3 separate regions of the Homo sapiens genome follow, and all the other regions are linked to region 3. The links come from fine-mapping of genetic effects on plasma protein levels. A gene starts in region 3. Each other region holds a variant in brackets. All regions are shown on one strand. Distances are between the middles of the regions. Region 1 has its middle 9.4 kb from the start of HSPA12B. Region 2 overlaps SIGLEC1 (sialic acid binding Ig like lectin 1). Region 3 holds the start of SIGLEC1 (sialic acid binding Ig like lectin 1).

Evidence for each region. PIP is the posterior inclusion probability: the model's chance that the variant is causal. The UK Biobank Pharma Proteomics Project read protein levels with antibody pairs (Olink). The fine-mapping took linkage between variants from a reference panel, not from the people measured, so its PIPs are less certain.
Region 1: its variant is fine-mapped to the plasma level of the SIGLEC1 protein (UK Biobank, PIP above 0.99).
Region 2: its variant is fine-mapped to the plasma level of the SIGLEC1 protein (UK Biobank, PIP above 0.99). The variant lies in the coding sequence of SIGLEC1. If it changes the protein, the assay may bind it differently, which can mimic a change of level.

The regions. Positions count from the first base shown.
Region 1 is chr20:3,721,944-3,724,699 of GRCh38, reverse strand. No RefSeq gene overlaps it. Among named protein-coding and RNA genes, the nearest start is that of HSPA12B, 9.4 kb to the left of the region's middle. The variant C/T (reference allele first, on the strand shown) is at 1,260.
Region 2 is chr20:3,691,357-3,694,112 of GRCh38, reverse strand. It overlaps SIGLEC1 (sialic acid binding Ig like lectin 1), which reads left to right. Exons shown (of 22, transcript NM_023068.4): 14 at 415-666; 15 at 982-1,251; 16 at 1,341-1,592; 17 at 1,911-2,210; 18 at 2,513-2,756. Among named protein-coding and RNA genes, the nearest start is that of ADAM33, 11 kb to the right of the region's middle. The variant C/T (reference allele first, on the strand shown) is at 1,117.
Region 3 is chr20:3,711,383-3,714,138 of GRCh38, reverse strand. SIGLEC1 (sialic acid binding Ig like lectin 1) reads left to right here and starts at 1,539. Exons shown (of 22, transcript NM_023068.4): 1 at 1,539-1,669.

The sequences.
Region 1 (2,756 bases), 11 kb before region 3:
GCTTCCAGTTTTTGGCAATTATGAATAAAGCAGCTATAAACATTCTTGCGCAGGGTTTTGTATGGATATAAGGTTTCTCTCTCTCTTTTCTTTTCCTTTTTTATTTCTTTCCTTTCTTTCTTTCTTCCTTCCTTCCTCCCTTCCTTCCCTCCCTTCCTTCCCTTCCTTCCTTCTTTTCTTTTCGTTTCTTTTCTCCTTCCTTCCTTCCTTCCTCTCTCTCTCTCTCTCTCTCTCTTTCTTTCTCTTACTCTGTTGCCCACGCTGGAGTGCAGAGGCATAATCGTGGCTCACTGCAACCTCAAACTCCTGGGGCTCAAGTGATCCTCAGCCTCAGCCTCCCCAGTAGCTGACACTACAAGTGTGTGCCACCACATGTGACTAATTAAAAAAATTTTTTTTTGTAGAGACAGAGTATCACTGTGTTGCCAGGACTGGTCTGGAACTCCTGGCCTTGGCTGAGCACAGTAGCTCACACCTGTAATCCCAGCACTTTGGGAGACCGAGGCAGGCAGGTCACTTGAGGTCAGGAGTTCAAGACCAGTCTAGCTGACATGGTGAAACCCTGTCTCTACTAAAAATATAAAAATTAGCTGGGCATGGTGGCGTGCACCTGTAATCCCAGCAGCTACTCAGAGGCCGAGACAGGAGAATCGCTTGAAGCCGGGAGGCAGAGATTGCAGTGAGATGAGATCACTCCACTGCACTCCAGCCTGGGTGACAGAGCGAAACTCTGTCTCAAAAGAAAATAAATAAATAAATAAATAAAAAGAAAGAACTCCTGGCCTCAAGCAATCCTTCCTCTTTGGCCTCCCAAAGTGATGGGATTACAGGTGTGAGCCACTGTGCTCGGCCCTGGATATAAGTTTTCACCTCAATTGGGTAACTATCTAGGAGTGTAATTGTTAGATTGTATGGTAAGACTATGTTTAGTTTTGTAAGAAACTGCCAAACTGTCTTAAAAATGGCCATACCATTTTACATTTCCACCAGCAACGAATGAGAGTCCTGTCACTCCACATCCTCACCAGCATTTGGTGTTTTTAGCATTCTGGATTTTGACCATTTTAATAGGGGTTTAGTGGTACCTTGTTGCTTCAATTTGTAATTCCTTAATGACATCAGGTTAAGCATATTTTCATATGCTTATCTTCCATCTGTATATCTTCTTTGATGAGGTGTCTGTTCACATCTTTTGCCCATTTTTTTTTTTTGAGACGGAGTCTCACTGTGTTGCCCAGGCTGGAGTGCAGTGGCGCGAT[C/T]TTAGCTCATTGCAACCTCCCTGGTTCAAGCTATTTTCCTGCCGCAGACACCCAAGTAGCTGGGACCACAGATGCACGTCACCACGGTCGGCTAATTTTTGTATTTTCAGTAGAGACGGTTTCACTATGTTGGCCAGGCTAGTTGAGAACTCCTGACCTAAGGTGATCTGCCCTGCTCGGCCTCCCAAAGTGCTGGCATTACAGATGTGAGCCACCGCCACCATGCCTGGCCCGTTTGTCCATTTTTTAATGGGGTTGTTTGATTTCTTAGTGTTGGGTTTTAAGAGTTCTTTGTGTATTTTGGGTCATCAGATATTTGTTTTGCAAATATATTCTCCCAATCTGTGGCTTGTTTTCTTATTCTTTTAACAATTGCTTTTTTGTTGTTGTTGTTGAGACAGAGTCCCACTCTTTCGCCCAGGCTGGAGTGCAGTGGTGCAATCTCGGCTCACTGCAACCTCTGACTCCCAGGTTCAAGCAATTCTCATCCCTCAGCCTCCCAAGCAGCTGGGATTACAGGTGCACACCACCACGCCCAGCTGATTTTTGTATTTTTAGTAGAGACGGTATTTCACCATGTTGGCCAGGCTGGTCTCGAACTCCTGACCTCAAGTCATCTGCCTGCCTTGGCCTCCCAAAGTGTTGGGATTACAGGTATGAGCCACTGCACCAGGCCAACAAATACTTATTTATTTATTTATTTATTTATTTATTCTCCATGTATACGACCGTTCCACATCTCGTGAATTTAGTTGCCCAATTCCAGCTACCAGCAGATTTCAAATATAGCTAACCCTTGAACAACATGGGGGTTGGGGGCACTAATCCTCCTCATCATCAAAAATCTGTGTATAACTTTTGACTCAAATACTTAATTACTAATAGCCTTCTGTTGACTGGAAGCCCTACTAATAATATAAACAGCCAATTAACATATATATTTATGCATTCCTGACCTACCTAACTCTGTTTCAGTTTTTTTTTTTTTGATATTTCTAGCTATGTGGTTTGTGAGTTTTTTCAAATTGTCACATCTCTCCAAAATTTTTTTCAATATGTTTATTTTTTTAAAAATCTGTGTATAAGCAGACTAGCACAGTTCAAACCCATGTTGTTTAAGGGTCAGCTGTAGTGTCTCTTAGTCCCAATTCTAATATTTTTAGAAGAGACAATTATTGACCAGTTTGGTGAAGTGGAGAATCAATGATGGCTGAATGAGGTGGTAGCATTAAGGTAGCTGGAAGGGAATCTGGGTGATATAAATTTAGTTTTCTAGCCTCTGCAGTACAGGAAGACGAACTGGAAGGAGGCAGGAATGATTGCTCAACCCTCCATATAAACACAGCAGTTGATGCCTGGTGGATGGTTGGGGGCTGTGGATATGACGTAGTACATGTAGGTTAAAAAAAAAGTTCAACATATACAGAGAGATGAAACAAAATGCAAAATTTTCTACCCCGCAGTTCCACTCTTCCGCCCTCTTTTCATTTTTATATA
Region 2 (2,756 bases), 20 kb after region 3:
CCATTCCCACCCTTCCTAACGATGGTGGACTCCAGACTTGAGTTTCTTAGGAGAACCTTTTATAAACACCAAATTTTACAAGTATGCCCAGTGGATAAAACTAAACAGGGAATTTCAGGAGAAAGTGCAGCAGGGGAGGGGAGGTCTGTGGTCTCCCCATTTGCCCCCAGCCAGGGTCAGGGAGGGGCTCAGGGCTTTCCAGGACTCTGTGGAACTCTACTTGGGACCACTCAGGAGCCAGTGGGCTATTCCCAAGCTTGACTTCTAAGCCACATTTATAGGTGGGCCACCCAAGGCTCCCAAAGGCCAAGGGGCTCCCCAGCAGTAGGAGTAGCTCACCCACATGGAGACAGGTGGCCTGCTGTACACAGCCTCAAGACCCTCACTGGTGTCCTGTGCCCTCCCTCTCCCCAGCTGTGAATGTGCAGGTGTGGCCCGGGGCTACCGTGCGGGAGGGGCAGCTGGTGAACCTGACCTGCCTTGTGTGGACCACTCACCCGGCCCAGCTCACCTACACATGGTACCAGGATGGGCAGCAGCGCCTGGATGCCCACTCCATCCCCCTGCCCAACGTCACAGTCAGGGATGCCACCTCCTACCGCTGCGGTGTGGGCCCCCCTGGTCGGGCACCCCGCCTCTCCAGACCTATCACCTTGGACGTCCTCTGTGAGTCTGGCTGGATGCAGGGTGGGACTCACAGGAATGACAGAAGCCCACAGGGATCACGGCATGGCCGGAACCCGACAGGTGTCCAGTGGGGAACTCGGTACCCAGTAGCTAGTGGAGCACTGGGCAAGGAGCATTAAGAGTAGGGGGCGCTGGGGTGAGTCCTGTCTGGGCAGAGGAGCAGTGCCTCAGACTGGGTGGTTGGGAGCCATAGGGGTGGGGAGCCAGGGCCCTCCTGAGTTTGAATGCCACCTGCAAACTGGCCTCCTGCAGGCTGCTGCCTGTGACTCCGTGTAAGCCTCTCATGCCCTGCAGACGCGCCCCGCAACCTGCGCCTGACCTACCTCCTGGAGAGCCATGGCGGGCAGCTGGCCCTGGTACTGTGCACTGTGGACAGCCGCCCGCCCGCCCAGCTGGCCCTCAGCCACGCCGGTCGCCTCTTGGCCTCCT[C/T]GACAGCAGCCTCTGTCCCCAACACCCTGCGCCTGGAGCTGCGAGGGCCACAGCCCAGGGATGAGGGTTTCTACAGCTGCTCTGCCCGCAGCCCTCTGGGCCAGGCCAACACGTCCCTGGAGCTGCGGCTGGAGGGTAAGGCAGGGCCTAGGCCAAGCCCACTGGGATGGAAGCCCACTGTGGTGTCCGGCTGGGCCCGGCTGATCCTGGCCTCCTTGGCACAGGTGTGCGGGTGATCCTGGCTCCGGAGGCTGCCGTGCCTGAAGGTGCCCCCATCACAGTGACCTGTGCGGACCCTGCTGCCCACGCACCCACACTCTATACTTGGTACCACAACGGTCGTTGGCTGCAGGAGGGTCCAGCTGCCTCACTCTCATTCCTGGTGGCCACGCGGGCTCATGCAGGCGCCTACTCTTGCCAGGCCCAGGATGCCCAGGGCACCCGCAGCTCCCGTCCTGCTGCCCTGCAAGTCCTCTGTGAGCAGAGGGTCCTTGGCCAGGGCTGCCCAGGAGGAGGGTGGTGGAGGGTGCTTCTGGGCTCTGGTGGGAGTGGGCAAAGGACTGCAGTGGGCCCAGGAATGGGCAGTTGGGGAAAGAGGACATAGGTGCTAGAGAAAGAGACAGTCCTATAAGCCCTGCCTGGAGCACTCTGCCCACAGGACTCCTGGGAAGGTGTCACTTCTAGGAAGTGGCCATTGGTCCAGAGGCCTCAGCCTGACCAACCCCAGGCAGCTAGGCAATGAGCAGTACAGGGTGCCTAAGCAAGGTCCCCATCTGTGCCCTGCCTGCCCACAGATGCCCCTCAGGACGCTGTCCTGTCCTCCTTCCGGGACTCCAGGGCCAGATCCATGGCTGTGATACAGTGCACTGTGGACAGTGAGCCACCTGCTGAGCTGGCCCTATCTCATGATGGCAAGGTGCTGGCCACGAGCAGCGGGGTCCACAGCTTGGCATCAGGGACAGGCCATGTCCAGGTGGCCCGAAACGCCCTACGGCTGCAGGTGCAAGATGTGCCTGCAGGTGATGACACCTATGTTTGCACAGCCCAAAACTTGCTGGGCTCAATCAGCACCATCGGGCGGTTGCAGGTAGAAGGTGAGTGGAAGAGAGGGGAGGAGGAGGGGCTCTGATGCTCTCAGGTCCAAGTCCACGAGAGGGGCTGGAGCTCCCACTAGAGCGGGCTGTCTGGTCTGAGAAAGCTCTGCCTTGAGAAGCCTAATCTGGTGGAGGGGGCACAGCTCCCACTGGAGGGGGCATGGTTCCACCTTGGAAAGCCCTATACCAAGTCAGACTGAGACCTTCCCACAATGTGCAGAGGCCCCTCAGAGGTCCCACCCAGAGGCTCCAGCCCCCAAGGCCTACAGATCCCCAATCATCTCTCTATCCTCCGCCCGCAGGTGCACGCGTGGTGGCAGAGCCTGGCCTGGACGTGCCTGAGGGCGCTGCCCTGAACCTCAGCTGCCGCCTCCTGGGTGGCCCTGGGCCTGTGGGCAACTCCACCTTTGCATGGTTCTGGAATGACCGGCGGCTGCACGCGGAGCCTGTGCCCACTCTCGCCTTCACCCACGTGGCTCGTGCTCAAGCTGGGATGTACCACTGCCTGGCTGAGCTCCCCACTGGGGCTGCTGCCTCTGCTCCAGT
Region 3 (2,756 bases):
GGATCCACCCTGATTTAGGGTTTCACATCCTTTTACACCTGCACACGTGGCCTTGCCCTCAGGGTACAGGGGCCTAATTTGCTGTGGCCAGCTCCCCACCAGTACAGGTAGGCAGGGACTGAGTTGAATTAAGTTTGAGTTGTGAAATTAAAAAAAAAAATGGCCAGGAGTGGTGGCTTACGCCTGTAGTTCCAGCACTTTGGGAGGTCGAGGTGGGAGAGTCACTTGAGCCCAGGTGTTTGAGACCAGCCTGGGAACATAGGGAGACTCCGTCTCTACAAAATAACTTAAAAAATTAGCCGTGCATAGTGGCAAGCGCCTGTAATCCCGGCTTCTTAGGAGGCTGAAGCAGGAGGATTGCTTAAGCCTAGAATTTCGAAGCTGCAGTGAGCCAAAGTGAGCCAAGATTGCACCAGGACACCCCAGCCTGGGCGACAGAGCAAGACACTGTCTCAAAAAACAAAAACAAACAAACAAACAAAAACCAAAAAAAGTCTTGTTGCTTGTATCTGGGATTGCTTGGAGCAATTAACATCTGCTTCACATGTCAAGTGCCTGCACAAACTAGGCCCTCAATAAGATGGGCTGCAGTAATGTAACAGTAACTAGCTGTGGTGGGGGCTTTCCTTTCCTGTCCCAAGGTGGGGGTGAAGGTATAGGATAGTGGCCGGGTGCAGCGGCTCACCTCTGTAATCCCAGAACTTTGGGAGGCCGAGGCAGGCAGATTACTTGGGGTCAGGAGTTCAAGACCAACCTGGACAACATGGTGAAACCCCGTCTCTACCAAAAATACAAAAATTAGCCGGATGTGGTGGTGCATGCCTGTAATCCCAGCTACTCGAGAGGCTGAGGCAAGATGATCACTTGAACTCGGGAGGTGGAGGTTGCCGTGAGCTGAGATTGTGCCACCGCACTCCAGCCTGGACGACAGAGTGAGACTCCATCTCAAAAGCAAAAACAAAACAAAAAGAAAAAAACCAACAACAAGAAGCCAAAAACCAAAAAACGTACAGGACAGTGAGAGGGGAAAGAGAAAACCTGAGGAGTGTCCTGGACATTGGGGCCTTATGTCCCCCACAACACGGGACTGCCTCTTGGGGGTTCTTAAGAGTACTCAGTGGTACAGGGAGGCTCCTGAATGGCTTGGAGAATAACTGCCTTGGTCTGGGCATCGTGTAGTGCATCCCCACCCCAGGCTGGGCGCGCCTCCCTCTCAGGTGTCAGGGAGGAGAGCTGTGTGCAGGAAGCCCCCTTCCACCTCCCCCAGCCTCCCTAAGGGGCTCAGAGAGAGTGGGGTGTGGATTTGGCTGGTGAATGGGAGTCCCCCACTCCATTTCTCACTTTGCCTGGGGAGGCTCCAGCGTTGCAGCGGTCCCACTTCTGCTTGCTGGAGTCCCTAAGTCCCTGGCCTTGCCGAGGGCCTTCCCCTATGGAGGTCTTTCCCGTTTTGGCATTGCGCAAGGCCTGCAGCTGCCTCCCTGACCAGCCTCTGGGTTGGACAGTAGAGCTGAGGCTTTGGGAAAGAGGAAGCAGCCCCTGATACGGGATCCTTCTCTCTTGAGCCGGCAGAGCCCTGGGGAGCCAGCTGCACCAGGAGCTCTTGGCCGTCCTTCCTGTTCTCCTCTCCGCAGGTCCAGCACCGCCGCAGCCACTTCCTTCTGTGGAGCAGGTACCCCTGTCCCTGGTCCCTGGGCCCAGAGGGTGAGTGGAGCATTAGGAGCGGGGCTGGGCTGAAACTGGCTGAGCGGGATAGGGGCAGGGGTCGGGGGGGGGCTCCATCTGGGTGCGAGTGGTGGACCCCAAACCAACCCAAGTCCAAGACACTAATCAAAGATGGACTCAACTGAAACCCTTCCACCACCCCCAAATCCTTCCAACCTGCATCCCAATCCCAGTCCCGACCATCACCCTGCTCTGACCCTACCTCAGCCCCAGCCCCAGCCCCTATTCCAACCTTATCTCACCCTCACCTCACTTGCACCCCAACCCTAACCATTTACTCATCTCATCTAATCCCAACCATCCATCATCCCAACCCTAACCACAACTCCGACTCTATCATCCTCATCTCAACCCAGCCTCCACCGTATCTTAACCATCACCTGCACCCAACTCCAACCTTCACCCTTACCCCCACCCATCACTCAACCTCAATGTCCACCCCAATCCCAGCCTTAATTTGCTTCCAGAATTCCAACCTGATCATCACCCTGACCTCAGCCCCAGCCCAGCCCAACGATAATCTCTCCTTACTCTAACCCCAGCACAATTCCACTTCATCCATCACCACTTCGTCCGTCCACAGGAGGGCTTCTGGTGCTGTCCAGCACAGTTTGGAGAGTGAGCACTCCAGCCAGAAGCATTTAGAGCCAGATTAAGGAATGAAGTGTGAAATTTCTACTGCCCATGTCAAAGCCAATAAGCATTAGTTATGGATTCTATGGCTCTGAGAATTAAACATTTGGCCTGTGATTGGGGATTTCCACTATTTTGACCATAATCTGCTCCAGGAATTGCCCATCCGTACCCTGACTCCCTATCTGTGGGCCAGTAACCTCCAGCTGGCCATGTCACCCTGTGTTCTTCCTTCTCTAGCCCAATGGGGAAGTTGGGGAGAAGCCTTGGTGTCAGGAAACAGAAACTGAATCCTACACCCGGGCCTAGCTGTCCATAGGGAAACTGCCTCTGCCCTTTCTTCCCCAGCTAAACTTGGCCTCTGGAATCAGAGGTCAGGGACTTGGGGCCCCAGCCAACCC